7 linked regions of the Homo sapiens genome follow. The protein of the gene in region 7 interacts with the protein of the main gene of each other region in a biochemical or structural test. Each region holds a gene or a part of one and is shown on either strand. Other genes may lie near its edges.

Evidence for each region.
Region 1: the proteins of GRAP2 (region 7) and KHDRBS1 form a complex in vitro, tested with the Homo sapiens proteins (one study listed by BioGRID).
Region 2: the proteins of GRAP2 (region 7) and ERBB2 form a complex in vitro, tested with the Homo sapiens proteins (2 studies listed by BioGRID and IntAct, with this or other methods).
Region 3: the proteins of GRAP2 (region 7) and SOS2 form a complex in vitro, tested with the Homo sapiens proteins (one study listed by BioGRID).
Region 4: the proteins of GRAP2 (region 7) and CSF1R form a complex in vitro, tested with the Homo sapiens proteins (one study listed by BioGRID).
Region 5: the proteins of GRAP2 (region 7) and CCNDBP1 form a complex in vitro, tested with the Homo sapiens proteins (one study listed by BioGRID).
Region 6: the proteins of GRAP2 (region 7) and RACK1 form a complex in vitro, tested with the Homo sapiens proteins (one study listed by BioGRID).

The regions. Positions count from the first base shown.
Region 1 is NC_000001.11:32,030,337-32,035,095, forward strand, and holds part of KHDRBS1 (KH domain-containing, RNA-binding, signal transduction-associated protein 1), read left to right. Parts: coding exon 1-86; intron 87-1,187; coding exon 1,188-1,304; intron 1,305-2,851; coding exon 2,852-2,998; intron 2,999-4,759. UniProt on the Homo sapiens protein: Recruited and tyrosine phosphorylated by several receptor systems, for example the T-cell, leptin and insulin receptors. Once phosphorylated, functions as an adapter protein in signal transduction cascades by binding to SH2 and SH3 domain-containing proteins.
Region 2 is NC_000017.11:39,710,029-39,714,787, forward strand, and holds part of ERBB2 (receptor tyrosine-protein kinase erbB-2 isoform a precursor), read left to right. Parts: intron 1-57; coding exon 58-173; intron 174-311; coding exon 312-453; intron 454-1,899; coding exon 1,900-2,019; intron 2,020-2,293; coding exon 2,294-2,420; intron 2,421-3,124; coding exon of another isoform or gene 3,125-3,241; intron 3,242-4,759. UniProt on the Homo sapiens protein: Protein tyrosine kinase that is part of several cell surface receptor complexes, but that apparently needs a coreceptor for ligand binding. Essential component of a neuregulin-receptor complex, although neuregulins do not interact with it alone.
Region 3 is NC_000014.9:50,161,497-50,166,255, forward strand, and holds part of SOS2 (son of sevenless homolog 2), read right to left. Parts: intron 114-4,759; coding exon 1-113.
Region 4 is NC_000005.10:150,076,555-150,080,054, reverse strand, and holds part of CSF1R (macrophage colony-stimulating factor 1 receptor isoform a precursor), read left to right. Parts: coding exon 1-3; intron 4-1,806; coding exon 1,807-1,943; intron 1,944-2,619; coding exon 2,620-2,779; intron 2,780-3,500. UniProt on the Homo sapiens protein: Tyrosine-protein kinase that acts as a cell-surface receptor for CSF1 and IL34 and plays an essential role in the regulation of survival, proliferation and differentiation of hematopoietic precursor cells, especially mononuclear phagocytes, such as macrophages and monocytes.
Region 5 is NC_000015.10:43,191,903-43,196,661, reverse strand, and holds part of CCNDBP1 (cyclin-D1-binding protein 1), read right to left. Parts: intron 3,920-4,759; coding exon 3,859-3,919; intron 2,248-3,858; coding exon 2,201-2,247; intron 1,936-2,200; coding exon 1,821-1,935; 3' UTR 1-1,820. UniProt on the Homo sapiens protein: May negatively regulate cell cycle progression. May act at least in part via inhibition of the cyclin-D1/CDK4 complex, thereby preventing phosphorylation of RB1 and blocking E2F-dependent transcription.
Region 6 is NC_000005.10:181,237,828-181,241,341, forward strand, and holds part of RACK1 (small ribosomal subunit protein RACK1), read right to left. Parts: intron 1,756-3,514; coding exon 1,660-1,755; intron 1,351-1,659; coding exon 1,240-1,350; intron 413-1,239; coding exon 272-412; intron 1-271. UniProt on the Homo sapiens protein: Scaffolding protein involved in the recruitment, assembly and/or regulation of a variety of signaling molecules. Interacts with a wide variety of proteins and plays a role in many cellular processes.
Region 7 is NC_000022.11:39,952,447-39,957,205, reverse strand, and holds part of GRAP2 (GRB2-related adapter protein 2), read right to left. Parts: intron 1,388-4,759; coding exon 1,296-1,387; intron 1-1,295. UniProt on the Homo sapiens protein: Interacts with SLP-76 to regulate NF-AT activation. Binds to tyrosine-phosphorylated shc.

The sequences.
Region 1 (4,759 bases), on a different chromosome or scaffold from region 7:
ATGAGGAGAATTACTTGGATTTATTTTCTCATAAGAACATGAAACTGAAAGAGCGAGTGCTGATACCTGTCAAGCAGTATCCCAAGGTAAGGCAAAAAGTGCTTTGGATCTTTGAGTTATCTTTATAGTTATGAGAGAGTCATGGGCTATAATAAAGACTCCTGGGGATTGTGATGCTTTAGAAACTTAAGCCTGTGAAGCTTCTCTTTCATGCTTGTAGTACCTGTTACTGAGAGTTGAAATATCTAAGTTCTTAACTAATAACATAGCTATAGCCAGGAAGGAAATATAATCATCTTTTTATTATCAAAAAGTTTCTTTCTCAAATGATTGCTCAGGCTACAAGTTCAAAGAAAAAAAAATTAAAACCTGAAGAGTTGCTCTTTGTCAAAAGACTAACCTGAAATCTAAATAAAAGGAAATATAATATGAATCCTCAATTGGTTGAAGTTAATTTTATTTTCTTACTAAAAGTTTACTTTTAAGTAAATGCTTTTTTTCTTCCTTTTTTTTTTTTTAGGAAAGCATTTAGTTACATTTAGTTTATCCAGCGTGTTATCAAAGGGTGCTATATAGTCTCTTCTGTTCTGAGGTCACTGCCTTAAAAATGTTGATGTATGTTAAGTGCTGGGCCAGGCACAGTGGCTCATGCCTGTAATGCCAGCACTTTGGGAGGCCGATGCAGGCAGATTGCTTGAGCCCAGGAGTTCAAGACCAGCCTGAGCAACATAGCGAAACCCCATCTCTACAAAAAATACAAAAATTAGCCTGGTGTTGTGGTGTGCACCTGTACCCAGCTACTCTGGAGGCTGGGGCAGGAGGATCACTTGAGTCCAGAAAGTTGAGGCTGTGATGAGCCATGATTGTGTCACTACACTTTGGCCTGGGCAACAGAGTGAGAGCCTGTCTCAAAATAAAGTAAAAAATAAAATAGTAAAGGTCTTAATGTATTATGGAAGAGCACCAGAATACATCAGAAAAGCCAAATTCAGGTCTAGGAACTGCCACTTTCTAGTTTCATAACCTTAAGCTAATCACTTTATTAATATGGCTTCAGTGTCCTTCAGTAAAATGGGAATGGTAATACTCTACCTTTGCAGGGTTGTTTAAAATCAAGTGAGGTAATTTATGTGGAAATGTTTTTATATAGTAGCATGTATATTTAGAAATCCTCTATTTTCTGTCAGTTCAATTTTGTGGGGAAGATTCTTGGACCACAAGGGAATACAATCAAAAGACTGCAGGAAGAGACTGGTGCAAAGATCTCTGTATTGGGAAAGGGCTCAATGAGAGACAAAGCCAAGGTAAGCTCACATTAGTGAGGCAAGAGGACATCCTAATGCCTTCTACTTGCCCAGAATGCAGTATGGATGTCTTATAGAGGCGGCAAGAATTTTGTATGTGTACAGAATGTGGCTCCTTTAAGTTTGCACTGGATGCAAGAGATTATACACCAAGTTAATTTACTTGGCTTGGCAACCCTGGAAGAGCCTAGGTGTGCCCTGGTGATAGTTTTCTTTTGGACTTTTTGACTGTGTAGTAATGGAAACAGCAGTAGCATGTTGCGCATTGGTAGGATTGTCTGTGAAAACTTGAAAGGGGAACTGAATATACTAAAATTTAGTCTAAAGCAGACAAAAGACGCTAAAATGCAAATAGCACACCCCCTTTTTTGTAACCTGGAAAAGTGAGAACAATAATGTGAGAGCAGATGAGTTTGAGGATTAGTTGGTTTGTTTTATAGCCGGTTTGGAATGTGAGGCTCACTAAAAGAATGTATTCCAAAAGGAACCATGAGTAATCCTGACTACAGAATCTAATGCGTCTTTTTTTTCCCCATGCCATAGCCGCGTACGCTGTGTACTCTGTGACAAGAAACTTCTCACCAAAACAGAATAGTCTTAGCCTTCTGGGGTCACCTTATTTGATGAGATATTCCTGCTACAGTCCAAAAACCAATTCTTTCAACCCTCCTTTTATGTAGTCTAATGGACACATGTTTGTTTTCTCAGGTCATTTCTTGCTAGATGCATATAGTTACGGCTGAAGTGTGTTCTAACTAATGAGATTTACATGAGCTTTTCTTCCCTCTGTCCTGACTTCTTTCTTCCCCTACCACTCCCTAGACCATATAAGCAGATAAGCAGAGCTCGTGGTGATTAACAGCTCTACCTGTGATTTAAAAACAAATGCTTGGCAAACAGCTATTATCTGAATAGACTAGAATTAAGTTTTTCTTCTTTATGCTTTTAGTAGGAGCTCCAATGGATATCTCAGGGATTTAAGACAACAATTAACTGTAAGCAGCAGACCATGTGCAAGTTTAGCAGGCTGTGCAAATTACTGTTCTTGAGAGTTTGTTTTACTTTTTTTTTTTTTCTTGAGAGGGAGCCTTGCTCTATTGCCCAGGCTGGAGTGCAGTGGCTCACTGCAACCTCCACCTCACGGGTTCAAGCAATTCTCCTGCCTCAGCCTCCTGAGTAGCTGGGATTACAGGCGTGCGCCACCATGCCCGGCTAATTTTTGTATTTTTAGTAGAGACGGGGCTTCATCACATTGGTCAGACTGGTCTCGAACTCCTGACCTTGTGATCCTCCCGCGTCAGTCTCCCAAAGTCCTGGGATTATAGGCGTGAGCCACCGCGCCTGGCTGCTTGTTTTACTTTCTTAAACTTTACTGTTTTTCTTTTTTCTTTTTTCTTTTTTTGTTTAATTCTTCTCAGCTCATACCAATTAACTTTACTGTTTTTCATGGACATTAGGGGTATTTCTTGCTGTTCCTTTGGCTTAGAGGTAAAGGTGGTGTTTTCTCCCTAGTCCATGGTGTGACATTTCTCTGCATTTTTCCATAGGAGGAAGAGCTGCGCAAAGGTGGAGACCCCAAATATGCCCACTTGAATATGGATCTGCATGTCTTCATTGAAGTCTTTGGACCCCCATGTGAGGCTTATGCTCTTATGGCCCATGCCATGGAGGAAGTCAAGAAATTTCTAGTACCGGTAAGGAAATCCATATCCTGTGTCTTCTGAGCAAAAGAGAACTGGGATCTTATACTGTTGTGAAGGTAGGGGTTCTTAACTAAGGTCTCTGCATAACCTGTATGTATACCAAATTCTGCACTTATGTTCATTTTCCTTAGGTAGTTCGTTACTTGCACCTAGTTCTCAAAGCATTATGCTCCAAGGCCACTCTATCCCTCCTTGTCTAATGTGGTTTTCATTGTGTACCGGTATCTTGTCAGTATCTCGGGTCCACAGTGTGCCTGCATTCTGATATTTGGTTAACTAAGGTTTAACAGGGTCTTCACCTAGCTGAGTATTTTGGTAGTAGTGTGGAACAAGGAGATTGTGTTAGGAAAGTGACTAAGGTGGGTCTCTGCACTCAAGAAGTTCATGCTGTAGAGAGTAGAGACTAGCAGCAAGAAGCTTATAGCATCTAGTGTTATTGGGTTAAATTCTGACCTGAGCACACTCAGGGATTTCTTTCCTGGAGGAGTTTGCTGAGGACGAGTTTAGTTTGGAAGAGGTTGACTATTGATGTTTAACAGATAGGTGAGCAGCTTTTTTCAGACTATTACTGAGGACTAGATAGAGATGGGACAGGCCAGTTTATCTATCTTGCTTGTTACCACCTTTGAATACTTGGTTGGAATATTACTTTGAATAAATAGGAAATGGTACTATTTTTGCCTTTTAGCAAGGCCTGGTGGTTGTCAGAGTTAACATACTACTGTTGAATATTTAATAACAAGGATGAATCTGGAGACTTATGAAGGATTTGGAATATTATTAAGTAGAATTGAGTAAGCGTCATGTGTTCATCAGAAAACTAGGAGGAGGTAAGATACAGTCCTTGGTTTTCTTGAATGTTAAATGAGGGAATTAGAACTAAATGTGGTGTCAGATGATGTGAAAATTGATAGGGCAAAAATTTATAGGCAGTGTGGGCCAGGCACGGTGGCTCACGCCTGTAATCCCAGCAATTTGGGAGGCCGAGGAGGGCAGATCACCTGAGGTCGGGAGTTCGAGACCAGCCTGACCAACATGGAGAAACCCTGTCTATTAAAAATACAAAATTAGCCGGGCGTGGTGGCACATGCCTGTAATCCCAGCTACTAGGGAGGCTGAGGCGGGAGAATCACTTGAACCCAGGAGGCAGAGGTTGCGGTAAGCTGAGATTGCACCATTGGACTCCAGCCTGGGCAACAAGAGTGAAACTCCATCTCCAAAAAAAATAAATAAATAAGTTTTTAGGCATTGTGTACCCATAATGCTGAACTCCAAGGATTCCAACAGTCTCAAATGTCTTAGCAGCTGCTTTGCTTTCAAGTACCTCATCTTCATTAGAATGTTCAACATGAGGCAGGGCGCGGTGGCTCACACCTGTAATCCCAGCATTTTGGAAGGCCGAGGCGGGTGGATCACGAGGTCAGGAGATCAAGGCCATCCTGGCTAACATGGTGAAACCCCGTCTCTACTAAAAATTCAAAAAAAAAATTAGCTGGGCGTGGTGGCAGGCGCCTGTAGTCCCAGCTAATCGGGAGGCTGGGGCAGGAGAATGGTATGAACCCGGGAGGCGGAGCTTGCAGTGAGCCGAGATTGCGCCACTGCACTCTGGCCTGGGTGACAGAGTGAGGCTCTGTCTCAAAAAAAAAAAAAAAAGAATGTTCAACATGAAACAGACCATTTAACATATCCTAGAGAAAAACACAGCTGGTTAATAATCTTAAGGAAATTCTTTTTACTCTTTTTGGGGTGTTC
Region 2 (4,759 bases), on a different chromosome or scaffold from region 7:
ATGAGGGTCTGGTGCCCAGGGCGCCACTCAGCCCTCATCCTGCCCTTTGCCCAACAGTGACGCGCACTGTCTGTGCCGGTGGCTGTGCCCGCTGCAAGGGGCCACTGCCCACTGACTGCTGCCATGAGCAGTGTGCTGCCGGCTGCACGGGCCCCAAGCACTCTGACTGCCTGGTATGTGCCTCTGCTTTGTGCCCAATGTGCTCTACCCCCCAGGATGCAAGGGGTGGGCACCCTGCCTGGTACTGCCCTATTGCCCCTGGCACACCAGGGCAAAACAGCACAGTGAAAGCCAGCCACCTGTCCCCCCAGGCCTGCCTCCACTTCAACCACAGTGGCATCTGTGAGCTGCACTGCCCAGCCCTGGTCACCTACAACACAGACACGTTTGAGTCCATGCCCAATCCCGAGGGCCGGTATACATTCGGCGCCAGCTGTGTGACTGCCTGTCCCTGTGAGTGCCAGGGAGAAACACAGTTTTCTCATTTTGGTGGGGAGGTTTGTTTCTGTAAATGGGAGCATATGGGGAGCACTGTCTGCATCTTGCTTTGAGAGCTGGTCATGACAGTTCCTGCCGAGCTGCCTTGTTCTTTCAACAGCTGTGGAGCAGGTGGCAGTAAGGAGAGGCAGCTAAGAGCCCAGACTTGGGAGCCAGACTGCCTGGGTTTGAAACCCAGCTCTATCAATTAGTAGGCACGTGACCCTCTTGCTGTGCCTCAGTTTCCTCATCAGTAAAATGGGGGCAAGAATAGTCCCAACTGCATAAGATGGTTATAACATTTGAAAGAGTTAATATTTGTAAAGCTCTTAGAACGGTGCCTGGTATGTACTAAGTGCTCCTAAATGTTAGCTTTTATTCTATAGCCTGGTGAGGTCAGTTTTACCTTTCGTTTTGTTTTTGAGACCGAATTTAGTTAGCTCTATCGCAGTGGCGCGATCTCGGCTCACTGCAACCTCCGCCTCCCAGGTTCGTGCTATTCTCGTGTCTCAGCCTCCTGAGTAGCTGGGATTACAGGCGCCCACCACCATGCCTCGCTAAATTTTGTATTTTTAGTAGAGACAGGGTTTCACCACGTTGGCCAGACTGGTCTCGAACTCCTGACTTCAGGCGATCCACCTGCCTCGGCCTCTGAAAGTGCTGGGATTACAGGCGTGAGCCACTGCACCCGGACTTTTTTTTTTTTGGCAGAGTCTCGCTCCATTGCCCAGGCTGGAGTGCAGTGGTGCAATTTTGGCTCACTGCAACCTCTGCCTTCCGCATTCAAGCAATTCTTGTGCCTCAGACTCTTGAGTAGGTGGAACTACAGGCATGCACCACCATGGCTGGGTAATTTTTGTATTTTTAGTAGAGACGGAGTTTCACTATGTTGGCCAAGCTGGTCTCGAACTCCTGACCTCAAGTGATCCACCCGCCTTGGTCTCCCAAAGTGCTGGGATTACAGGCATGAGCCATCGTGCCTGGCCTAGCTCAGTTTTATTTAACAGATCACCTATTTACTGATGGGCGTTTATGGACTGGGCTCAGACCTGGGGAACCTCTTTCCTCCTCTCACAGGAACAGGAGTGGGCCTTCAGATCCTGGCTGACTGTGTTAGGGAGAGGACAAAATGTAGAGCCAGACCATTTGGGTTCAAATCCTCGCTCCTCCACTCACTAGCACAATGACCTTGAATAATTTACAGAACTCTCTGCTTTGGTCTCCCTTTTTGCAAAATGGGAATCTCACAGTGCTGATCCCGTCTGGTTGTTGTGAGGGGTAAATGGATGTCAGGTGCTGATGCGTGGTAGGGCATTTAAGTATTGGTTGATATTATTCTTCTTGTGCCTGGGCACGGTAATGCTGCTCATGGTGGTGCACGAAGGGCCAGGGTATGTGGCTACATGTTCCTGATCTCCTTAGACAACTACCTTTCTACGGACGTGGGATCCTGCACCCTCGTCTGCCCCCTGCACAACCAAGAGGTGACAGCAGAGGATGGAACACAGCGGTGTGAGAAGTGCAGCAAGCCCTGTGCCCGAGGTACCCACTCACTGCCCCCGAGGCCAGCTGCAGTTCCTGTCCCTCTGCGCATGCAGCCTGGCCCAGCCCACCCTGTCCTATCCTTCCTCAGACCCTCTTGGGACCTAGTCTCTGCCTTCTACTCTCTACCCCTGGCCCCCCTCAGCCCTACAAGTGTCCCTATATCCCCTGTCAGTGTGGGGAGGGGCCCGGACCCTGATGCTCATGTGGCTGTTGACCTGTCCCGGTATGAAGGCTGAGACGGCCCCTTCCCCACCCACCCCCACCTCCTCAGTGTGCTATGGTCTGGGCATGGAGCACTTGCGAGAGGTGAGGGCAGTTACCAGTGCCAATATCCAGGAGTTTGCTGGCTGCAAGAAGATCTTTGGGAGCCTGGCATTTCTGCCGGAGAGCTTTGATGGGTAAGAGTGGGCACGATGACCTGAGACAGTGTCAGGGCAGACAGAGTCCTGAGGATCCAGATGTGGCAGCATCTCTTGGGGATGGCAGGAGACAGAAGTGGGGGGATCAAGAATGCAAAGAAAGCAGATGGGAGACCAGAGGAGCAGGGCCTTTGGTGGGTGGGGGTGATTATTTTTGTAAATGACATGCTATCCGTGAACAAGGACTTGTATGGAGGTCAGACCATCTAGATAAAGTAAAATTCCCTTTGAGTTCATAGCAGCTTTATTCAAAATATCCCCAAATTGGAAATAACTCAAATGTGCATCACTAGGTGAAGGAATAAACAAGTGGCAGTGTATCCATTTGGTGAAGTTCTACTTAGCAACCAAAGGAAATGAACTACCGATACAACATAAATGAATCTCAGAAACATTACATTGAGCAAAAGAAGCCAGAGACAAGATTCCATACTGTCTGATCCCCTTTATGTGAGGCTCTGAACCGAAAAAACCACTCTGTGGTGGGAGAGATCAGAACGGTGGTTGCCCCAGGGTGGGGGGCTTCAAAAGGGAGGCACACAAGGACATTTCTGGGGTAATAGAAATGCTCTGTATAGTGATTGGGGTAGTGGATACATGAGCGAATCCATTTGTCAAAACTCATCAAACTGTGTGATAAGAGTCTGTGCATTTTATTTATTTCATTTTATTTTTTGAGATAGAGTCTCACTCTGTCAGCAGGCTGGAGTGCAGTGGTACGATCTTGGCTCACTGCAACCTCTGCCTCCTGGATTCAAGCAATTCTCCTGCCTCAGTCTCCTGAGTAGCTGGGACTACAGGTGTGTGCCACCATGCCCAGCTAATTTTTGTATTTTTAATAGAGATGGGGTTTCACCATGTTGGCAAGGATGGTCTCGATCTCTTGACGTCGTGATCCGCCCACCTCAGCCTCCCAAAGTGCTGGGATTACAGGCATGAGCCACCACACCCGGTGCATTTTATTGTATATAAGTTATACTTCAATAAGAAATGAATTGGGGCCAGGCACGGTGGCTCACGCCTGTAATCCCAGCACTTTGGGAGGCCGAGGCAGGCAGATCACTTGAGGTCAGGAGTTCAAGACCAGCCTGGCCAACATGGTGAAACCCCATCTCTACTAAAAAATATAAAAAATTAGCCAGGCTTCCTGGCATGCGCCTATCATCCCAGCTACTTGGGAGGCTGAGGCAGGAGAATTGCATGAACTCGGGAGGTGGAGGTTGTAGTGAGCTGAGATTTCGCTATTGCACTCCAGCCTGGGCGACAGAGTGAGACCCTGTCTCAAAAAGAAAAAAAAAAAAAAGGGTCAGGCGCCGTGGTGCACACCTGTAATCCCAGCACTTTGGGAGGCTGAAGCAGGAAGATTGCTTGAGCCCAGGAATTCAAGAACAGCGTGGGCAACATAGTGAGATCCCATCTCTACAAAAAAACACAAAAAATTAGCCGGGCATGGTGGTACGCACCTGTAGTCTCAGCTACTAGGGAGACTGAGGTGGGAGAATCACCTGAGCCTGGGAGGTGGAGGTTGCAGTGGGTTGAAATCATGTCACTGTACTCCAGCCTGGGTGACAGAATGAGACCCTGTCTCAAAAAAAAAAAAAAAAAAAAAATTCCCTTTCACACTTCCTTTACCTCCACTCCCCTTTCCAGAGGGGGCCATGGTTAACAGTGTGTGTGTTCACCTAGACCGTTTATGCATCTGTAGACACACACACAGTGAAGTGTGGTTTTCGTCGTTTTGGTGGGGAGGTTGGTTTCTGTAAATGGGAACATATAGGGAGCACTGTCTGCACCTTGCTTTGAGAGCCGGTCATGACAGTTCCCATTGAACTGCCTTGTTCTTTCAATAGCTGCAGAGCAGGTGGCGGCAAGGAGAGGCAGCTAAGAGCCCAGACTTGGGAGCCAGACTGCCTGGGTTTGAAACCCGGCTCTACCACTTACTAGGCATGTGACCCTTGTGCTGTGCCTCAGTTTCTTCATCTGTAAAGTGGGGGCAAGAACAGTCCCAACTTCATAAGATGGTTATACCACCATGCCTGGCCAGATGATTATAAAGTTTGAATGAGTTAATATTTGTAAAGCTCTTAGAACAGTGCCTGGCAGATACTAGGTGCTCCTAAATGTTGGTTTTTATTATGTGGCTGGGTGGCTCGGGGTTTTATTTAACAGCTCCCCTATTTACTAATAGACATTTAGATCATGTTCCATTTTCACTCTTACAAACAGTTCCACTTTGTGTGTGGCTCTGGGAACATGGGCCAGTGTCTCCCTAGGCCACATTCCTAGAAATAAGATTTCTTTTCTTTTTTTTTTTTTTT
Region 3 (4,759 bases), on a different chromosome or scaffold from region 7:
GGTGAATACTGCTTGTAAATTCGGTCCATGCTACCTTGGAGATTCATGAGAGCAGTAATAGCTTGGTTCAAACATTCTCTGTCTTCTTGTTCTTCACTACATGCTTTCAATTGCTAAGAAAAAACAGAAAGAAAAATCAAAACTGCATTGTTTGATTCTTCCCCCAACTTTCTAGTAATAGAAAAAGCAGCAACAAATATTATCAACTCTAAGTTAATTTTATATATACTTAATAAAAACAGCTATAATTTTATATATACCTACTGCCCTCTCAAACCAACCCTTTTTCTTTCTTTTTTTTTTTTTTTTTTGAAACAGGATCTCACTCACTGTGGCCTTGAGCTCCTGGGTTCTAATGATCCTCCACTCTCAGCCTCTCAAGTAGCTGAGACCACAGGCGAATGCCACCACACCCAGCTAATTTTTAAAATTTCTGTAGAGACAGGGTCTCGCTATGTCTCCCAGGCTGGTCTTGAACACCTGCTCAAGCTATCCTTCTGCCTCTGCCTCCCAAAGTGCTGGGATTACAGGTATGAGCCACCAGTCCTGGCCCAACCTTCTTTCTATAAACATAAACACAATACAGATATAAACTAACATGAGCATAGTAATCAGGAAAAAAAAAAGCAACTGTAAAAACCATTCGGACATTTTATTTTTATTTTTTATTTTTTTGAGACAGGGTCTTACTCACTCCGTCACCAAGGGTGGAATACAGTGGCAGGGCTAACTGCAGCCTCGATCTCCTGGGCATAAGGCTTCCCGAGTAGCTGGGACCACAGTTGCATGCCACCACATCCAGCTAATTTTTTTATTTTTATTTTTTGTAGAGATAGGGTCTCACTAGGCTGGTCCCAAACTCCTGGACTCAAGCTATCCTCCCATCTCTGCCTCCCAAAGTGTTGAAATTACAAGTGTGAGCCACTGTGCCAGGCCACATTTTCCAAACATATTTAAAAAGTTTAAAACACCTAAAGCATGAAGCTTACAACTTACTTTTATTCATTAGCAACTATGAATAGAGAAAATAAGTAACTATAAACTATTTCATATTCTCTAATGATTACTTTGTTTTAGCAATTTCAAGTTTACAAATCTTTGTTATATAACATAATCAAGGGTACTAACTTTTAACACTTCAATCTATCATAAACTTTTCCGTAAACAGCATCTCTCAAAGGATTCCACTGCTATTTTTTACAATATGAAATGTCAAGAAACCATGAAAATTAATTCTATCTCAATCTTTAGAAGATTTAGAAACTGACTTATTAATCTCTAAAACTCTGGTTCTATTTCATTTGCCCCAAAATGTTCTCTTGTATTTCACTCTCAGAAAGAAAGCAAATTTACTTATAATAAATAATTCAGATTGTATTGTATTGTGCTCCAATGTTTTGATTTTTTTTTTTTTTTTTGAGACAGGGTCTCACTCTGTCACCCAAACTGGAATACGGTGAGGTGATCATGGCTCACTGCAGCCTTGCCTCAACCTCCTGGACTCAAGTGATCCTTCCATCTCAGCCTCCCAAGTAGCTAGAACTACAGATGTGTGCCACCATGCTTGGCTAATTTTTTTTTTTAATTTTTCTGTAGAGATGGGGTCTCACTATGCTGCCCAGGCTGCCCTCAAACTGTTTTAATCTTTTGAAAGAAGAGTTCAAAGTGGAACATCATATAGATATTATATATATTATGTATTTATAAATATATATTTATGCAAGGATATGGGGAATTATGATCACTTCAGAAAATTTTTAAAAACTTAAATCTATTTTGTGATCTTTAACTTATTAGAGATTTTGTGATAAATTAAAATTTTCCTTATATTCCAAGAGCAATCTCAAAAGCATTCAGCAATGGTTCCCTTTCCTCAGCAAAGAACTAACTGGCTATTGTTTGACAACTTTGTCCATTACCTTTTATTTATGTCTTAGAAATTAGTCTCTATATGAAGCACAGAGCCATTTGATTTTATTTCAAGACACATGTAGAGGTCTTGTCATCAAGAGATTAGCAACATAAATAATGTAAATGACTATTATTAGAAGTAATACCTTAATCTCTAGACTAAGCAATAGAAAGGATGGAAGCAAAGTCAAAATATCATAGAAAGTTTGAAAAAAGATCTGTGCTTGGTTATTCTGACTTCTACAGGTGAAAGTTACTGGCAAAATCACTTATTTTGCTGCTTTAAAGATTTCTTACAGAAAGTCTTCTCAGCTCCACTCTAAAATATTTCTTTAATAAATATGAATGTTGATGACATCAAACACTTAATTAGAACTGTTTTATTCTTGTTTTTGTTTATCCAAATATCTAAATTATCACCAGTAGTGATATCCTACCAAAAAGGTATGATTTTCATTGTCTACTTGGTCTTAAGGCTGCTCAAACTCTTCCACGTGTCATTTTTAAATAACCATGTAATAATTATAAGCTGTAAAGGAGAACAAAATTGAGGATATTTAGAGTGGGATTTCCTGGTAATGGAAGTATATTAAACAACGGCTCTGTTTGGCATAATAATCTGATAATTTGCTAAATATTTCTTGAATTTTCAGCAGTGAGATTTGATAAACATCATATTAATGAATATCCAACTAATATTCTACAGATACTTAAAAGAATGTGTTCCAAACATCTTACACAGAAATTACTGGGCCAGGCAAGGTGGCTCACACTTGTAATCCCAACATACTGGGAGGCCAAGGCGGGCAGATCACTTGAGCCCAGGAGTTCAAGACCAGCCTGACCACACGGAGAAACCTTGTCTCTACAAAAAATACAAAAATTAGCCGGGCGTGGTGATGTGCACATGTAGTCCCAGCTATTTGGGAGGCTGAGGTGAGAGGATGACCTAAGCATGGGAGGTAGAGAATACAGTGAGCTGAGATTGTGCCATTACACTCCAGTCTGGGTGACAGAGTGAGACTCTGTCCCCCGCAAAAAAATGAAAATAAAAATAAAAAATACAAAAAAAAATTAGCTGGACGTGGTGGTGCATGCCTGTAATCCCAGCTACTCAGGAGGCTGAGGCATGAGAATCACTTGAACCTAGGAGGTGGAGATTGCAGTAAGCCAAGATAGCACCACTGCACTCCAGCCTGGGTGATAAGGCGAGATTCTGTCTCCAAAAAAAAAAAAGAAAGAAAAAGAAAAGAAAAATTACTGTACTGAACTATGTGCAAACAAGTAATGTACTTTCATGCCCCCATTCGCTTTCTACACAACAGTCTCTGACCTCCTTATCCACCCGGTGAATTTAGCCACTAGGATACAGTTGAAATGCTTCCTCTTGAAGATGCCTTCTGATTATGCCTTTTCCCTCTTAAATTTTTTCTTTTGAAATATCAAATTTATAGAAAAGTTGTAAAAGTAACACAAATAACTCCTGTAATACTCTGAATCACCAATTTTTAACATTTTGTCACATGCTTCATCATTCTGTGTGCCAGTGTGTGCAGATCGTTTTTTTAGTAGTTGTGATACTATCCACTCAGTTCCTTCCAGAGGAAGGGGGACTACGGCTGAATGGTTTTGCAGTAGTTTTTGGAATATAAGGAAAAGTCAAATGTATCACAAATTACTCTCAAATAGTATCATTCTCCTTTACTCCTTTAATATTTCTCATAGCTCATCTTACAACAAGGATTTTCTTTTACAGAATCACAGTATAGTGATCAACTTCAGGAAATTTAACACCGAGTAATCTACTGCATAATCTAATCTATAGTGTATATTCCAATTTTGCCAACTGTTTTAATAACATCCTTTAAGGTAATATTTTCCCCCAAAACAGGAACTGGTCAGTGAAGCACTAAATTGTCATGTTTCTATTGTCTCTTTTATTCTGGAGAGTTCCTAAGCATTTGTCTTTCATGACTCCCGCAAATAAATAAGGACACACACACCCGCGCACACACTGTTCTCTCTCTCAGTAGGACGAATACCCAAAACCATTATGTATTTTTTTTTACTCCACTGAACAAAGGAAAAATCAATAGGAATTTTTTTCTGCCTTCCCTAAGCAGAGCTAGTAACTCCTGCTTCATTGATCTCATAGTACTACCTCTATTAGGCTCTTATAATATTGTAATTATTTGTTTGACATCTATTTTCTTCACTAAATTGTAAACATCTTAATGCCTAGGGACACGTTTTATTCCTTTTCAGTTTACCTGCATGTGGTAGGTATCCACTAGGTGGTTGTCAGAAGTAACTGGAATAAATGACTACTGTATGATTTTGTTAAGTATTTAGACCAATAATGAATGTTTTTTGAGCTCTGCTCTGTGCACGCTCTTTTATGCATTAGCTTATTTAATTTTTATTACAACTCTGTAACACGAGGTACTATAATCATATGTTACAGATGAAGGAAATGAGGCACAGAGAAATTAAGTAATTTGCCCAATATAAATAGGAGAGTTTATATCCAAACCCAGGAGCTCTGACCCCAAAGTCTCTGCTTTTTTGCTACACTAATACCCCGTGGCTCTACCATGACACCAGACACAGCTACGCAAAACACTGGTCTGTGTCTAAATCTGATGACCACTGAGTTGAAAGGGATTCTTTCTATGTTGAAAACAAACTGGATAACTACTGAGTTTAAGAAATAAAATGAAATGAGTGTACTCTGGAAAAGAGGTCAAAGAGAAAAGATACCCTTGCTACATATGCTTAAAATTAAAAATAAAAGTGATTGTTTATTAATGGGTAATATCTTTTCTTTTTCTTTGAGATAAAGTCTCAC
Region 4 (3,500 bases), on a different chromosome or scaffold from region 7:
AAGGTGCGTGGGGCATGGGGACCGGCAGCCAGGCCTGAAGAGTGGGGACAGAGAGCCGGCGGCCACATGGGTGGTGACTGGGGACTGGGTGTGATGGGGGGCAGTGGGATGTCCTCTTTCTTTCACTTCTTCCCCTCAATGGTTCCACGATCATCTATGGGGCAGGACTGACAAGGTGTCGGGGCAGGGAGACAAACCACATGTGAGCAAATAACTCAGTGGGCAAGGTCATCTCAAGTCATTGGACATGCTACAAAAATAAACATTCAACATGGTAGCTGAATAAGGAGTGTGTAGGGCGGGGAGCCTCACTGAGAAGGAAACACTTTATTAGAGCGGAAATCTGAATGACATGAAGAAGGTGGCTGTGCAAAGATCTGCTTCAGCAGGGGGACAGTGAGTACCAAGTGGTGAGGTGGGGACAGGCTCTGAATGTTCTAGGTATGGAAAGAGGACGGAAGCTCAGCCTCAGACATGGATTTCCCACTGGGGGCCTGCCTAAGGCCAAGTGCTGGGCATGTGTAGGAGGGATGCTGAGCCAAGAGGCAGGGAGGAGATGGTGGGTGCGTGTGATGGCTCTCGCGGTGGCCAGGTAACAGTGGAGGTGGAGTCTCACCCTGCTGGGATGGCAGGCAGGATTCTGGTTTCTGGGAGGACTGGTGAGAGCAAGCAGGACCCCAGCCTGAGGACCTGGGCTTGAGACAGCAATCAGTCCCTGTAACAAGGGCCAGGGTCAGAGTGAAGCAGCTAGCCCAATGCCACTGGGATCTGAAGCCACTAAACCTGCCCAGGGGGTCAAAGGACCCCAGCTGTGTGGGCAGAGGAGGCCATTAGGGCTCTTTCCTGGCATTTCATCCTGCAGAGCCCTGGGCTGGCCAAGAGCCAAAGGTCCTGGGCCCTAGTTCTGCCTTGACACCCCCTCAGGGACCTTGGGTGAGTCCTTTCATGTCCCTGGGCCTTAGGAATCTGGATTAGATTATCTTTCAACAGCAGCAATGGGCATAAATATGAATTCAAGGCCTACTGTGCATCAGGCATCTTGCTGGCTGCTGGAATATTCCTGTCACGGATTTGACATTCGACTAGAGTCTAACTATTAAATAGAAAGTAAATACAAATGTGATGAGCAAGAAACCAAGCTGGGGAGTGGCGGGCATGGAGGTGCTGGGGAGGCTAATTCATATCAGCTGGTCACAGAAGCCTTGCTGAGGAATTTTTGAGCTAAAGATCTGAAGGATGAGAACAGCCTCCCATTTGAAGTGTGGGAGGAAAGGCATTCCAGGAGGGAAAGGTGGGTGCAAAGGCCCTGTGGTAGGAAAGAGGTCCAGCGGGCTGCAGTGCAGTGAACAAGGGGTGGGGTTATCAGGGCGGTCAGAAACAGGTTGGGCTGTGGAAGGACTTTGACTTCTTTTCTGAGAGTAATGGGAAGCCCCAAATGTTTACAGAGGAGAGAGGCATGGTCCCATTTATATTTGTAAGAGGTCACTTTAGTGAAGAATCTAGGTGTGGGGGGCTTGGAGGGAGGCAGGGAGGTCTCTGAGGAGGCTGGTGCAGAAGTCCAGAGTGGAGAATGGTGACGGGACTGGGGAGGGGTAGAGGTGATGGAGAAAGTAGACTTTCCAAGGTCTCTTTAGGACAGGCCTTGCAGTGGGGGGACTGGGAGCATCAAGGCTGCCTCCCAGGATTTGGGATGGGGCAGTGATGGGGACCCTGGCCTGTGTGTCCTGGCCCATGGCAGGGAGGAGAGCAATATCTCTATCATGTTCAGGGAGCCTGGGTGTTCAGGGGTCTCTCCCCCGGTCTCAGTCATCCCAGGGCCCCCAGCCTTGACACTGGTGCCTGCAGAGCTGGTGCGGATTCGAGGGGAGGCTGCCCAGATCGTGTGCTCAGCCAGCAGCGTTGATGTTAACTTTGATGTCTTCCTCCAACACAACAACACCAAGGTCAGTCCCTGCAGATCACAAGGTGAAGTCTGGCCATCCTCCCAGCACACCAGGTTTCCCATGGTGGAGTCCTGGGCCCCCAACTCCAAACTGGCTGTCTTAGCTGAAGGCACAGCTCAGACTCCAGAGAGGGGTGCAGACTCACCCGAGATCTCACTCCCAGTCAGTAGCTGACACAGAATCAGGACTCATGCTTGTGCCGCTGAACTTTGTGGGGGTGGGTGGGGGGAGGTGGTTCTCTGTCACCTTGACACATGGCCTTTGCCCCAGCCTTTAGACAAAAGCCAGAGGTGAGCTCACTTCTGATTTAGCAAGGGTTTCCTAGGCCACCATTGAAGCCCAGGAATATAACAGCTATTTCAGAAAGACATTGGGAGAGAGGGAGGAGGAGGGAGGATTCCAGGAGGGACTCACGTTGGGCTGCCTCTAAGAGCCCCCTCCCTTCCCACTGCACCTGCCGTGTTCCAGACACAGCCCTAAGCCACTTGCATGCATATCTCATTTACTCCTCACTACAGTCTTGGGGCAGGGAGCCAGTATTAGCCCCATTTTACAAGTGAAGCAACAGGCTCAGAGGAAAGGCAGATAGTAATCCTTAAAGGCTGAGGATTGGAACCCAGATCTTTCTAATCCCTAAACTACCTTGGTATAACATCTCCATTCCTTCTGGCTGCAGCTCGCAATCCCTCAACAATCTGACTTTCATAATAACCGTTACCAAAAAGTCCTGACCCTCAACCTCGATCAAGTAGATTTCCAACATGCCGGCAACTACTCCTGCGTGGCCAGCAACGTGCAGGGCAAGCACTCCACCTCCATGTTCTTCCGGGTGGTAGGTAAGCATCAGGGTGGTGGTGGACAGTCGGTAGGGATCCTGCAGGAGTGTGAGCAGAAGGGTTTTGAGGAGGAAGCTGATGTCAGGGAAGGAGACCTGCTGAGGATATCTCTGCTGGAGTTTGTTTATCCAAGGCCTGGCTAAGGAGCCACTCTCCAGGAGCTTTCCCTTACCCTCTCCTGGGATCTCTCTCCCATCTTGGAGCTCTTACAGTGCATGGCTGCATTGGGTGCACCTTAGTGCCATTTTTTGTTTATTTGGGGATTGGGGTCCAGTAGCTCCCTACTGGACTTCATTTGTTCATTCTTTCATGCATTCCTTTATGGAAACATGAAAAGACAATGATCACCCAGTGATTATGGGGGAAGCACAAGGTGTCCTGGGAACACTGAAGAGTCCCCCCAACCCAGGCTTCGAGAAGGTGGCCTCTAAACTGGGATGGGAAGAATGAAGGTGAGTTGGCCGGGCAGAAGGGTGGGAAAGGAAGGGGAACAGCGCTTCTGGCAGAGGGAGGAACATATGCAAGGCTCAAAGGCAAAGAGAACATAGATCATTTGGAACACTGAAAGAACTTGACAACAGCTGGGATGTGGAGTGGTGTGAGGAGTGGCCACAGGGGAGCAGAGGAGGTGGCAGAAGCCGGAGGTAAAGGTGTCTTAAAGTGAGAAAGAATAACTGCATCTTAACCTATTGGGAGGTCATTGTAAAGAGGAGAGTGATGG
Region 5 (4,759 bases), on a different chromosome or scaffold from region 7:
TTCTAATATTTCTGATGAAGTGGGATATTATCCCAAAATGGAATTTTTAGGTAATCTTAAAATTACATTGATCAAGCTGGGCTCGGTGGCTCACATCTGTAATCCCAGCACTTTGGGAGGCTGACGTGGGCAGATCACCTGAGGTCAGGAGTTTGAGACCAGCCTGGCCAACATGGTGAAACCCCATCTCTACTAAAAATACAAAAATTAGCTGGACATGGTGGTGTGCATCTGTAGTCCCAGCTACTTGAGAGGCTGAAGCCAGAGAATTGCTTGAGAACCTGGGAGGCGGAGGTTGCAGTGAGCCGAGAGTGTGCCACTGCACTCCAGCTTGGGGGACAGAGCAAGACTCCATCTCAAAAAAAAAAAAAAAAAAAAAAAAATTACATTGATCAGTGCTTTCCCTGATCATTATCCTTAAAGATCCAAACATGACTGAACGAAGTTATACAATACAGGACCTGAGAGAATAATTCAGCTAGAGGTAAGTCTTTATATTAGAGTTCTATATTCATTAAGTATCCCACAATTAAAGTCTGATGTTAATAACATGAATTTGGTCCAGTAGAGAAATATAAAAGTATATAAAAAATAGGCTCTATATGAAAGGATAAAAGAACTAGACTGTTGTACAATGTTATTATTTTGTTTATGTTATTTTGTTGCCTTGACACTCTGTCAGTTTGATTTTAGTTCCTTCCCTTCATGACACTTGTTAACAATACAAAATGGCACTTCAAAACAGTAAGCTAAAACTCATTTGGCTTAAGGAATTTCAACCCCAACCCCAAGTATACATTAGTCACTCAAAGAATGACTGCTGTTGCTGATTATACCTAAAGACAGCAGAAAGGCATATGTTATGAATTACACCTACAAAAGGAAGATGATGGGCATGAGAGGTGGCGGAGACCTGTAGGACATGCATAATGCCCTATTCAGCTCACCAGAATATACATCATTATAGATTTACACTGCTTTCCAATATGCAGTCTTCTAGACTGATGCAAAAGTATAATTAAGTGGTGATGGTTTTGCAAAAGGATGAACTGAAAAGGCCCTTAAAATTACATAAAATCTCTTACACACTAAAAAATTTTTGATTTATAAAAATTTGGTATTTACATTTGGGGACACACGTAACCAAGGACAACACAAGTATGTATAAGGAAAATAAATCTGTTCAATAAGGTGGGCAAACCTAACAAATGAGCTCAATGCCAATATATTTTAGAGACATGGAGTAATCTGTGATAATATTCAGAAGGACTTGCTGATAATAATATATAACATGGTGAAATACTAAGATGAATTTTGGAGTCATCTTTTATAAATAAAGTGTTTTGTTCTAAATATACTTCTGATTAGAATCAGATTTTTAAACCTACAAACCCAAATGAAAGCAATGTTCTAGTCTCAATCCACTGTATTTCTGGTAAAAAGAAACTTTGGAAGGGCACTCATTTAATCACTGGCAAGTTAGCATTTTATTGAGACCATCAACATCTTTACAATGAAAACAACATACTTTACTGCAAAAAGAGAATAAGGCAGCTTTCCTAGGAATCTCTGAGAAATGACTCAGGAATGAGAAATCATGCAATTATTTTTCATATATAGCACAGAAAAATATACGCATATGGTTTATAAATAGGTGTCAATCTGGCCTAACCAACAATCTTTGGTAATAGTGTCTCTTGCTAAATATAGATAGGCACTCCCTTTCAATCCAGCAAGCATTCTAGCTCCATTTTAAAAGCAGGTATCAGAGCCTGACCATGACGATGAGAGGGGAAGAGAGTACAAATGAGCCTGAAAAGTCATAATTCAAGTTCACTCTGAGTGAGCTCCTTGATTCTATTCATGCAATGATCAATGGCATTAATAAGTAAAGGGATCCAACTATCTTCTGGCTGAGGGGTCACATGACTTGCTCTGTGAATAGAATAGGAAAGAAGTAAGTTAAACTTATTAGGATGTCAAGGGAAAACCTATCCTCAGGAGGGAGCACAGGGAAAACTAAAATTTTTTTAAAGGGAAGCTTCTTTGCAGAATCTCAGCTGCCCCACAACTGAAGCTGAAAGAAAATCCCACACCCACCCTTTCCCACTCCTTGAAATGGGAGCTAGGGAGTTGAGAACGTCTGGACAGCAGTTCCGTTTTACTCACAAAAAGCTATCTGAGAAGTCTTCATACTTACTTTGTAATTTCAAGTGCCTTCTTTAAAACAGATACAAGTTTCGCAGACTAGAAAAGAAACACAGAAGTTATTCACCCTGAGCCCTACCATAAAAAGGTGAGTTCAAATATTTTTAAAGACCCAAGTAATAAAAAAATTATTTAGAAAAAGGACCTGAAGGAAGTATGCAAAATTTAAAATGCTGATTAGGTTAGGGTGGCAGGATTACGGGTTCTTTTCTATTTAGCAAGATCTTATTAATACTATTGCTATAACATTTTAATAAGATTTTTTAGATCTAAAATATTTTCAATTTAAAAAAGGACAGAAAAAGGAAAATGTAACCTGAATTGGTCCCAAATGCTGATAGCTCAAAATATAAAGCAGAAATGACTAAGGTTCCTTTAAAAAAAAAAAAAAAAAAAAAAAAAAAAAAGCGCATTAAGAATTTTAAGAACACCAATATAAGGATAAGATGGAGACGTTTAATATAAAATATCAATACATATAAGATGCATATGCAGTACACATTTTAAAATTGCTAGAGCAGATACTATGTTTGGGATAGCTGACTAGGCATATTGCTAAAAATGTTTATTTCTTAGGAAGTCAATTTTTTAAAAGTTAATGCCAAAAAAATGTTAATGCCCAAAAGGATCCTATTCTACTTCAAGGTGTTTATACATCATGAAGACACATCTGATGAATCTAATTTCCATTATCCAATTTATCAAATATTACTAGAATTGATACATTCAATTGTAAAATATAAGCCATTTGGCAGTTTTACTGCTCTTTCCAATAACATTAGAGAGAACAGAACTCTCTCTAGTAAAGGGCACAGAACCTCAAAGAATACAATAAAATCAGATTTTTATAAGAAAGTTGACTCTCCATAGTTAAATCACACAATGTGTTTGTATTAGAACAGAGTATGTTTCTGGAACACTTATTTCTGCCTTGTCTAGAAATCAGAAACATGTGACCTCAGCCAGCTACTTCATGAACAGCTGAAGTTCAATCTAATTGCTGCCTAGTCTAGAAATTAGAAACTTGTGACTTCAAGTTGAGAAGTTCCTAAATTACCGTGTAATTAAGACTTTCTTTTCAAAGAAGCTTTTTTTTTTTTTTTTTTTTTTTTTTTTTTTTTGAGACAGAGTCTTGCTCTGTTGCTCAGGCTGGAGTGCAGTGGCGCGATGTCGGCTCACTGCAACCTCCACTTCCCGGCTTCAAGCGATTCTCCTGCTTAAGCCTTCCAAGTAGCTGGGATTATAGGTGCATGATGCCCGGCTAATTTTTGTATTCTTAGTAGAGACAAGGTTTCGCCATGTTGGCCAGGCTGGTCTCAACTCCTGACCTCCGCCTCCTGGAGTGCTGGGATTACAGGTGTGAGCTACCGCGCCCAGCCTTAAAGCATCATTTTCTAAGGCCTTTGGGCTTTTCTGAATGATTACCCAGGTGATTATGGAAGAGAGAACTACCAAAGCTCATGGCTATTATAATTCAACTTCAGTGAATATTTATCAACCCCAAACGCATGCAAGAACTGTGACATTACTGTTGTACTTCCATCCAAATGTGACTAATAAATATGTACCCTATAGCTTACAGGAAATACTAGTGATTAGTGAAATTCTGCCCATTTGTTCTGTAGCTATTCCCTCAAAGCCAGTACTTACATTGATTCGCACGGTCAGGTGACACATAGGTGGATATATGCTCAGAGCCAAATCATCCACACTAAGAGCAGAAAACAAAAGTAATCATTAACAAAAAAACGCAGCCAGGTTGTTTCTAGTACACAACTATGGATGTCAACAGTGAGAAACTGTCCCAGAAATGCCTGTCAGTTTTTAAAATTGGGCAACTGGGCAACCAATACAGAATGAGTTCAACCAGTCTTTATTGAAACAACCATACCCCATTTCACTAGGAAGCTGGGGGGGAAATTCCCTTGGTTCATAGTAGGGTGCATGATCAATTCAGTCAAAAATGTGAGGATGTGAAACCATCAGTTTAATAACTAATATAGGCAGGCAGCCTTCATCAGTGGAAGCTAAAATTAGAGTAAAATATACCTTTACTAAAGTGAGCACCACTTTAAGTGATCAAATTTAGTACCACCAATAATGAGGCAAACCAACATCATGTGCCTCCCTAATATGATAAAATGAGATGTACAAAACACTTAATTATATGATATTCTTGCAAAAATGAGAACTAACAATCACGTGAATCCAGGTTGTTGGATATTTTACAAGACAACTGTCCTGGTTTCTTTTTAAAATGTTGATTAAAAAAGACTACAAAGGATAGGAACTGTTCTAGATTTCAAGAGACTAAAGAGATGACAATTAAATGCAATGTGGGACCTTGACAGAACCCTGAATTTATATGACATTTTAGATACAGACAACTGGGGAAATCTGAATATTAGATAATACTATTATATTCAATGTCAAATTTCTTGGATGTGATAATAAGAGTAGGAATAAGAGTACTTCAGGAGATACATACTGAAGTATTTAGGGGTGAAATGTCATTGCTGTCTGCAATTTACTCTCAAAACATTCTGGAATA
Region 6 (3,514 bases), on a different chromosome or scaffold from region 7:
TCCATGTATCAATGCCTACATGCATTTTCAGTTGCCACTAGTGGAAGGATGGTTTGCTACTGACATCTAGTAGAAGCTGGAAATGCTGCTAAACATCCTGGAATGTACAGGACTGCACACCACAACAGAGTTACTCAGACCAAAATGTCATTACGTGGAGGCTGAGAAAGCTTAGCTCCCAGGTGGGAGTCAGATGGCATATATAATAACCAAAACATTGCCAGGGCTCAGAGTGCAGCCAGGTACCCAGTCAATTGTAACCCACACTCACCCAGATCTTGATGCTGGGGCCTGTGGCAGCACACAGCCAGTAGCGGTTAGGGCTGAAGCACAGGGCGTTGATGATGTCCCCACCATCTAGCGTGTAAAGGTGTTTGCCTTCGTTGAGATCCCATAACATGGCCTGGCCATCCTGGACACAGGTAAGGTAAATCAGGACACTGTGACCTCTTCCAGATGTTAATTCTGCCCATCTCAAGATTCTGTCAGAATCAATTCTTACCTTTCCTCCATTACCCCAGGCTTCTTTGAAAGCTAATGACTCAAGTACCAATATTTATCTCTGTATACCTTTCCTTTAACGTAAGACCTTACCAACCCCATCAAAAAACCCCTCCCAACTTACATAAATCACTCCAATCATTTCTGAAAACCAGGATCCCAATCTCATCAACTGCTTCAAGAAACCAACTTTAGGCTGGGTGCGGTGGCTCATGCCTGTAATCCCAGCACTTTGGGAAGCCGAGGTGGGCGGATCACCTGAGGTCAGGAGTTCAAGACCAGCCTGGCCAACATGGTAAAATCCTCTCTACTAACATACAAAAATTACCCAGGAGTGATGGCGGGTGCCTGTAATCCTAGCTACTCGGGAGGCTGAGATGGGAGAATTGCTTGAACCCGGGAGATGGTTGCAGTGAGCCGAGATCGCGCCACTGCACTCCAGCCTTGGCAGCCGAGTGAGACTCCGTCTCAAAAAAAAAACAAAAAACAAACAAACAAAAAAACAACAAAAAAAACCCACAGGCTTATAGAAAATCATCTTTTTCTTCCAGATAGTATGCCTTAACTGTCATTTGCTGAAAGTAATCTTTGGAAACATATTCTCAGATTGCCATTATCTCATTATCCTCCTAAAACCATCTTGGCTAATGTTTGCCATTTTACGTTAGAGACGCTGGCTAAGTGCTCCTTCCATGACGCTGTCTTCCACTGAGTAGGAGACGCCTTGTCCCCAAATACCTTGCCTCCAGAAGCACAGAGGGATCCATCTGGAGAGACAGTCACCGTGTTCAGATAGCCTGTGTGGCCAATGTGGTTGGTCTTCAGCTTGCAGTTAGCCAGGTTCCATACCTGCATAGACGTGCGGTTGACAGGTGAACATCCTAGCTCTTGATGAGCTAGGGTCAGGCCCAACAAAAAAGGGCTTGGCACTTCTGGATACGGTAGCCATTTCTCATTCAGTAACATGTCCTGGCCACTTCACGTTAGATTATAACACATATCCAATGCAGTGTGCTGACTTACAAGGGACATCAGACCATGTGACAAGAGAAAGAGTCAACTGAGGGCATCTGCAAAGCTTTCCACAGGACTTGGAGTGTATGACCACCTGGGAGCACACCCTGACTGGTAAAGCCCCTGCCTTGGCTTGACGCTCACCTTGACCAGCTTGTCCCAGCCACAGGAGACGATGATAGGGTTGCTGCTGTTGGGCGAGAAGCGGACACAAGACACCCACTCTGAGTGGCTCTCATCCTACAGAAGATGGAAAGGAAATTAGGGCAAACAGTCCTATCCCATGAAATGCTAGACCTCCCAGCCCTACCCCTCAGTAGGATGATGGCTGGCAGCACCTTTCAAAAACCAAGAACCCAAACCTTTAAGCTCAATAGAATCCCTTTAGATTCCAGACAAGAAAATTTTTTAAAAATTTAGAGATGGTGGCTGGACGCAGAAGCTCACGCCTCTAATCCCAGGGAGGGCGAGGTAAGTGGATCACCTGAGGTCAGGAGTTTGAGACCAGCCTGGCCAAAATGGTGAAACCCTGTCTCTACCAAAAATACAAAAATTAACCAGGTGTGGCGGCGGGTGCCTGTAATCCCAGCTACTGGGGAGGCTCAGGCAGGAACACTGCTTAAACCCAGGAAGCGAAGGGTGCAATGAGCCAAGATTGTGCCATTGCACTCCAGCCTGGGCAACGAACAAGTGAAACTTCATCTCCAAAAAAAATATAATAATAATAATAGGGCCTGGTGTGGTGGCTCACGCCTGTAATCCCAGCACTTTAGGAAGCCAAGGTGGATGGATCATGAGGTCAGGAGATCAAGACCATCTTGGCTAACATGGTGAAACCCTGTCTCTACTAAAAATACAAAAAATTAGCCAGACCTGATGGCAGGCGCCTGTAGTCCCAGCGACTCGGGAGGCTGAGGCAGGAGAATGGCGTGAACCCGGGAAGCAGAGCTTGCAGTGAGCCGAGATCGCACTACTGCACTCCAGCCTGGGCGACAGAATGAGACTGTCTCAAAACAAAACAAAATAGTAGTGATAAGGCCGGGCACGGTGACTCACGCCTGTTATCACAGCAGTTTGGGAGGCTGAGGCGGGCGGATCACCTGAGGTCAGGAGTTTGAGACCAGCCTGGCCAACATGGTGAAACCCCATCTCTACTAAAAATACAAAAATTAGCTGGGCATGATGGCACACGCCTGTAATCTTCTCAGACACCCAACCATCGGCTTCTGAGCTGCGGCAACTCCCTTTCACCTTTTCACCGCCCCCCACCCATCCCCAAATCCCCGATCCAGCCCCCAATCTGCGATCCCAAATCTGCGATCTAGCCCAGAATCCATCTCAAAAAAGAAAAAAAATAAATAAAATTTTGTTTAAATAGATGGGGTCTCACTATGTTGGCCAGGCTGCTCTCCTGTCCTCAAGCAGTCCTCCCACCTTGGCCTACCAGAGAGCTAGGATTACAGGCGTGAGCCCAGCCCAGACAAGACTTTAAAAAGGCAAAGAAAGCGGGGGACGGTGGCTCACGCTTATAATCCCAGCACTTTGGGAGGCTGAGGCGGGCAGATCACCTGAGGTTGGGAGTTCAAGACCAGCCTGACCAACATGGAGAAACCCTGTCTCTACTAAAAATACAAAACCGGGCATGGTGGCGCATGCCTCTAATCCCAGCTACTTGGGAGGCTGAGGCAGGAGAACTGCTTGAACCCAGGAGGCGGAGGTTGTGGTCAGCCGAGATCACGCCATTGTACTTCAGCCTGGGGAACAAGCGAAACTGTCTCCGAGAAAAAAAAAAAAAAAGGCAAAGATAGGCAGGTGGGGGCTCACGCCTGTAATCCCAACACTTTGGGAGGGCGAGGCAGGCAAATCGCCTGAGCCCAGGAGTTTGAGACCACCCTGGGCAACATGGTGAAACCCTGTCTCTACTAAAACACAAAAAATTAGCTAGGCGTGGTGGCTGCGCACCTGTAGTACCAGCTACTCGGGAGACTGAGGCACCAGA
Region 7 (4,759 bases):
GTGCTCTTGCACCTTGCTGGAGTCACCAATACTACTGTGGTTTTCTAACAAGCTTTTGCTCTTTGAGCTAGACCCTGGTTCTGAGGCAAGATTAGATTTCTATCTAACCCTTGTGGTCAATTCTTGAGACAAACGAAGCCCAATCTCAATTTTTCATTTCCTCTTTAGGAAGAGAATTTCCCCTTCCCCCCGCTGACTTCTCTCATTGGGGTGAGCATGCTTTACTGAAGGCAGGGAGTGTCTGTCCACCCACTGAGTGAAGGGTGAGAGCCTGGTGAGGATGGTTAGGATTAGGAGGTCACAGAGAAGCGCTTAGGAGAGCAGCTCCCGAAGTGGGGTGGCCAATAGCGTCCCCTTTGGAATTCTGGGGAACGCCGTGATTGAAATCACTATAGATAATTTGAGTTTACAAACTCATTTTATAAAAACTTAAAATAGGCCGGGTGCAGTGGCTCACACCTGTAATCCCAGCACTTTGGGAGGCCGAGGCGGGTGGATCACCTGAGGTCAAGAGTTTGAGACCAGCCTGTCCATCATGGTGAAACCCCATCTCTACTAAAAATACAAAAGTTAGCTGGGTGTGGTGGCATGCACCTGTAATCCCAGCTACTAGGGAGGCTGAGGCAGGAGAATTGCAATGAGCCGAGATCATGCCACTGCACTCCAGCCTGGGCAACAGAGCAAGGTTCTGTCTCAAAACAAATAAACACATGAATAAAAAAACCCAAAAAAACCCAAAACTTAAAATAGGCCAGGCATGGTGGTTCACGCCTGTAATCCCAGCACTTTGGGAGGCTGAGGCGGCAGATCACTTGAGGTCAGGAGTTTGGGACCAGCCTGGCCAACATGGTAAAACCCTGTCTCTACTAAAAATACAAAAACTAGCCTGGCGTGGTGGCATGTGCCTGTAATCCCAGCTACTTGGGAGGCTGAGGTGAGAGGATGGCTTGAGCCCAGGAGTTTTAGGCTGCAGTGAGTGGTGATGGAGTCACCGCACTCCAGCCTGGGTGACAGAGGGAGACCCCAACTCCCAAAAAAAAAAAAAAAAAGTTAAGAACAACTTAAAATAGCAATACATGCACATGGTGTAAACATCAAAAGGGAATGAAATGAAATGCAAAGTCTCCCTCCTGCCCTGGCCTTCAGCTGCATGCTCTGGAGGCTCTCCGGAGAGAGCTCCAGAGGCAGCCATTTTTGACAATGTCTTGGGTTCCCATGGATAACTGTAGTGACTGCTGGAAATGTAAGAGGAGTGTGTGTGGCTAGGCCCATCTCAGCAGGCTGCAGATACTTACTTGGGAAACTGGATGTCTATGAAATTCTTGGGCACATATCCTTCCTGGCTCCCAAGCTCCGCCTTAAACCACTCCTCTTGGTTACTTAAAATCTACATGGAAGAAAAGGAAAGACAAAGACATTGGAGGGAGGACACCAAAAAAACAAGAGAAAGGGGCTGCCAGGCAAAGAAGGCCCTTTTGGACTTAGAGGAAAATATGTTAATAAGTTGAAAGAACTCAACAGCTGTTCTAGGATTTACCCCAGGCCTGTGGAGGAGCCGTGGGTTTACCTTTGGAGTCAGCTTCTCCTGACCCCAGGTTATTTCTGTCCACTTGTGCCGTCCACTCATGTCACCCCACTGTGGCTTGGCCTCCCAAATTCAGCACTCAAGGACTTCCCTGAATCCCTTTTTCTATTTTGGAAATTCATTTGTCCCAGTTAGCACCTTAAGTTCCTCATCTCAGCAGATGGTGAGAAGGAAGAATGGTTACTCCACGGTGTATTTTTTTTTTTCTCTTCCAGGTAACCAGGAAACTTTTCTCTTTTTTTTGTTGTTGTTTTTCGTTTTTTTGAGACAGAGTCTTGCTCTGTCGCCAGGCTGGAGTGCAGTGGCGGGATCTCAGCTCACTGCAACCTCCACCTCCTGGGTTCAAGCGATCCCCCTGCCTCAGCCTCCTGAGTAGCTGGGATTACAGGCATGCGCCACTACACCTGGCTAATTTTTCATATTTTTAGGAGAGACGGGGTTTTACCATATTGGCCGGGACTGTCTTGATCCTTTGACCTAGTGATCCACCTGCCTTGGCCTCCCAAAGTGCTGGGATTACAGGCGTGAGCCACCAGGCCCAGGAAACTTTTCAAAAATTCAATTTGTTATTGTTTTTTAAACAGGCAGATTAAAACTTAAACATCCCAGTGGGGCCAGCTTTGGAAACAGTAACTCTTTGTGTTCACATGCTGTGTATTTCACAGATATTTGGCTGGAACCCAAGATACTTGGGATGCCTTTTCTAAACTTGCTTTTAAAGCCAGATCCCAAACAAAACCAAAAGTTCTGTCTTGTTACTCTGTGGCCTGACTTTGACTGTGACCCCAAATGTTATTGTCTACCTCAGTTACTCATATTACTCACCAGACTTGACTGTATGTGGCTTCTGGTTTCTCAAAAAATGAGATTCACCATTAAAAGACAAAATATTTGACACCGCCACTGAGAATGTTTTGAAAGTCTGAGGCCAGGTGTGGTGGCTCGCGCCTGTAATCCCAGCACTTTGAGAGGCCAAGGCACATAGATCACTTGAGGCCAGGAGTTCGAGACCAGCCTGTCCATCATGGTGAAATGCCATCTCTACTAAAAATACAAAAAGGAGCCGGGCCTGGTGGCACATGCCTGTAATCCCAGCTACTCGGGAGGCTGAGGCAGGAGAATTGCTTGAACCCAGGAGGCAAGGTTGCAGTGAACCGTGATCTTGCCACTGGACTCCAGCCTGGGCAACAGAGCAAGCCTCTCTCAAAAAAAAAATTTTTTTTAAGTCTTTGATATAGACTAGAACAATAATTCTAAATAAGGATAGCAGAGCAAAAGATGGAAAGAACTCTGATAATGTCACTGAACCGCTGAATTAGATGATACCCAGGAGCCTTCCTACTTCTGGACTTTGAGAAATTACAAGTCTTTGTTATTGTTTAAGCCATTTTTAGTTTATGTTTCTTGCTCCTGAAAATATCTTAACTGATAGAAGTGTGATGATAAAGAAGAAAGCAGAAATAGATAGAAAAGGCATCCATATGTAGAGGAGAGACCACTTGCCTTGGCAACGAAAGGAGTTACTGAGGCCAAGTCAGATGGCAATGGACTTCCTCCTTCAGCTCTGAGGAGGTGTGGTGTGTTCTGGGAATGAAATGCCTCCAGGTGGCTGGAATGTAGACTGTGAATATCTTGAAATGTAGGGGGAGCCCTTAAAGGATTTTGAGCAGGGAAGTAACAGTAAGAATTAGAGTTCAGAAAGAGCTCTGGCTGGGTGCGATGGCTCATGCCTGTAATCCCAGCACTTTGGGAGGCCCAAGTGGACGATCGCTTGAGCCCAGGAGTTTGAGACCAGCCTGGGCAACAAAGCGAGACCTTGTCTCTATGAAAATAAAAATAAAACTTAGCAAGGCGTGGTGGAAGCGCACCTGTAGTCCCAGCTACTCAGGAGGCTGAAGCGGGAGGAGGGTGTGAGCCCAGGAGTTAAAGGCTGTAGTGAGCTCTGATTGTACCACTGTACTACAGCCTGGACAACAGAGAGAGACTCTGTCTCTAATTAAGAGAGAGCGAGAGAGCGACAGAGCTCTGTATCAGAGATCAGAATGTGAAGATAGATTGCAAGGCTAAAGTCGGCAGAAAAACTGCAGGAAGATGAGCGCAGGCCTCCAGTCAAGAGATGATAGGGCCTAGGCTAAGAGGAGGTGAGGATATATTTTAGAGAAATTCAGGAAGCAAACAGGCAGGATTTCTTGACCAATCTTGGAAGCTAAGGGAGAGGAGGACTCTGGGATGCCACTGGATTTCTGGCTTGGGAGACTGAGTAGGTGGTGACGGCTTTACAGAAATAGAAGATACATGAGAGGAGGCAGGGCTGAGAAAGGGCTCATGGGCTTCAGATTGCATGCGGGTGACTGTGAGTTGAATTCTTCAACTAAGAAGAAAAGCTCAGGGAGCAGCTGGATATGTCAGTCTGGACCCAGGAGAGAGGCTAAGGTTGGGGCTTGGGGTTTCAGAGTCATCAGAAAGTGGGTGGAGTTGAAGTCACAGGGCCCTTGGGCTTCTTTCTCCCAGAAAAGAAGATGGGAAGATAATGGAAAGAACTAAGTGCTTGAGTGGAGATGATGACCTATTTCTAACATCACTCCAAGGTGGAAGGAAGGGGACAGTGTTGTGAGTTGGGAACGAGAAGACCTGGTTTCTAGCTTGGCTCCATCACTAGATATGTGATCTTGGCCAAGTCAATCAGCCATTTGAAAAATGGAGATAATAATAGCCACCTAGCACCTCACAGAGCTGATGTGAGGATCAAATGAGCCCTGGTACCTGAAAGTCCTTCAGAAAGTGTAGACTCTTTTCAAAAAATACAATTCCATCAAATGTGGTATTCTTATGAGGGAGGCCTCCAGCTCTGAATAGGACATGGAAGGGTTTATACGTTCTTTAAAGCATTATGTGTGTATGTTTTGAATTTAGTCATTTATTCTGAAGGAATAAAAGTGTGTCCCATATTTGAGTTTGAGATTGCTGAGAACAGAAAACTTTATAGTTTCTAACATCAAATGTGACTGCTGGTGTCACTAAGGACATGTGGGTATGTGTGTGCTGAGGGGGCAAGGGAGGAAGCAGAAAATCTAGGTCAAAAGAACTAGGAAACCCAGCAGCAGCGCCTCGTAGCCACGTAAAAACACAAGAGCACACTGCACTCCATCCATCGCTTCTGAATTCATGGCATTG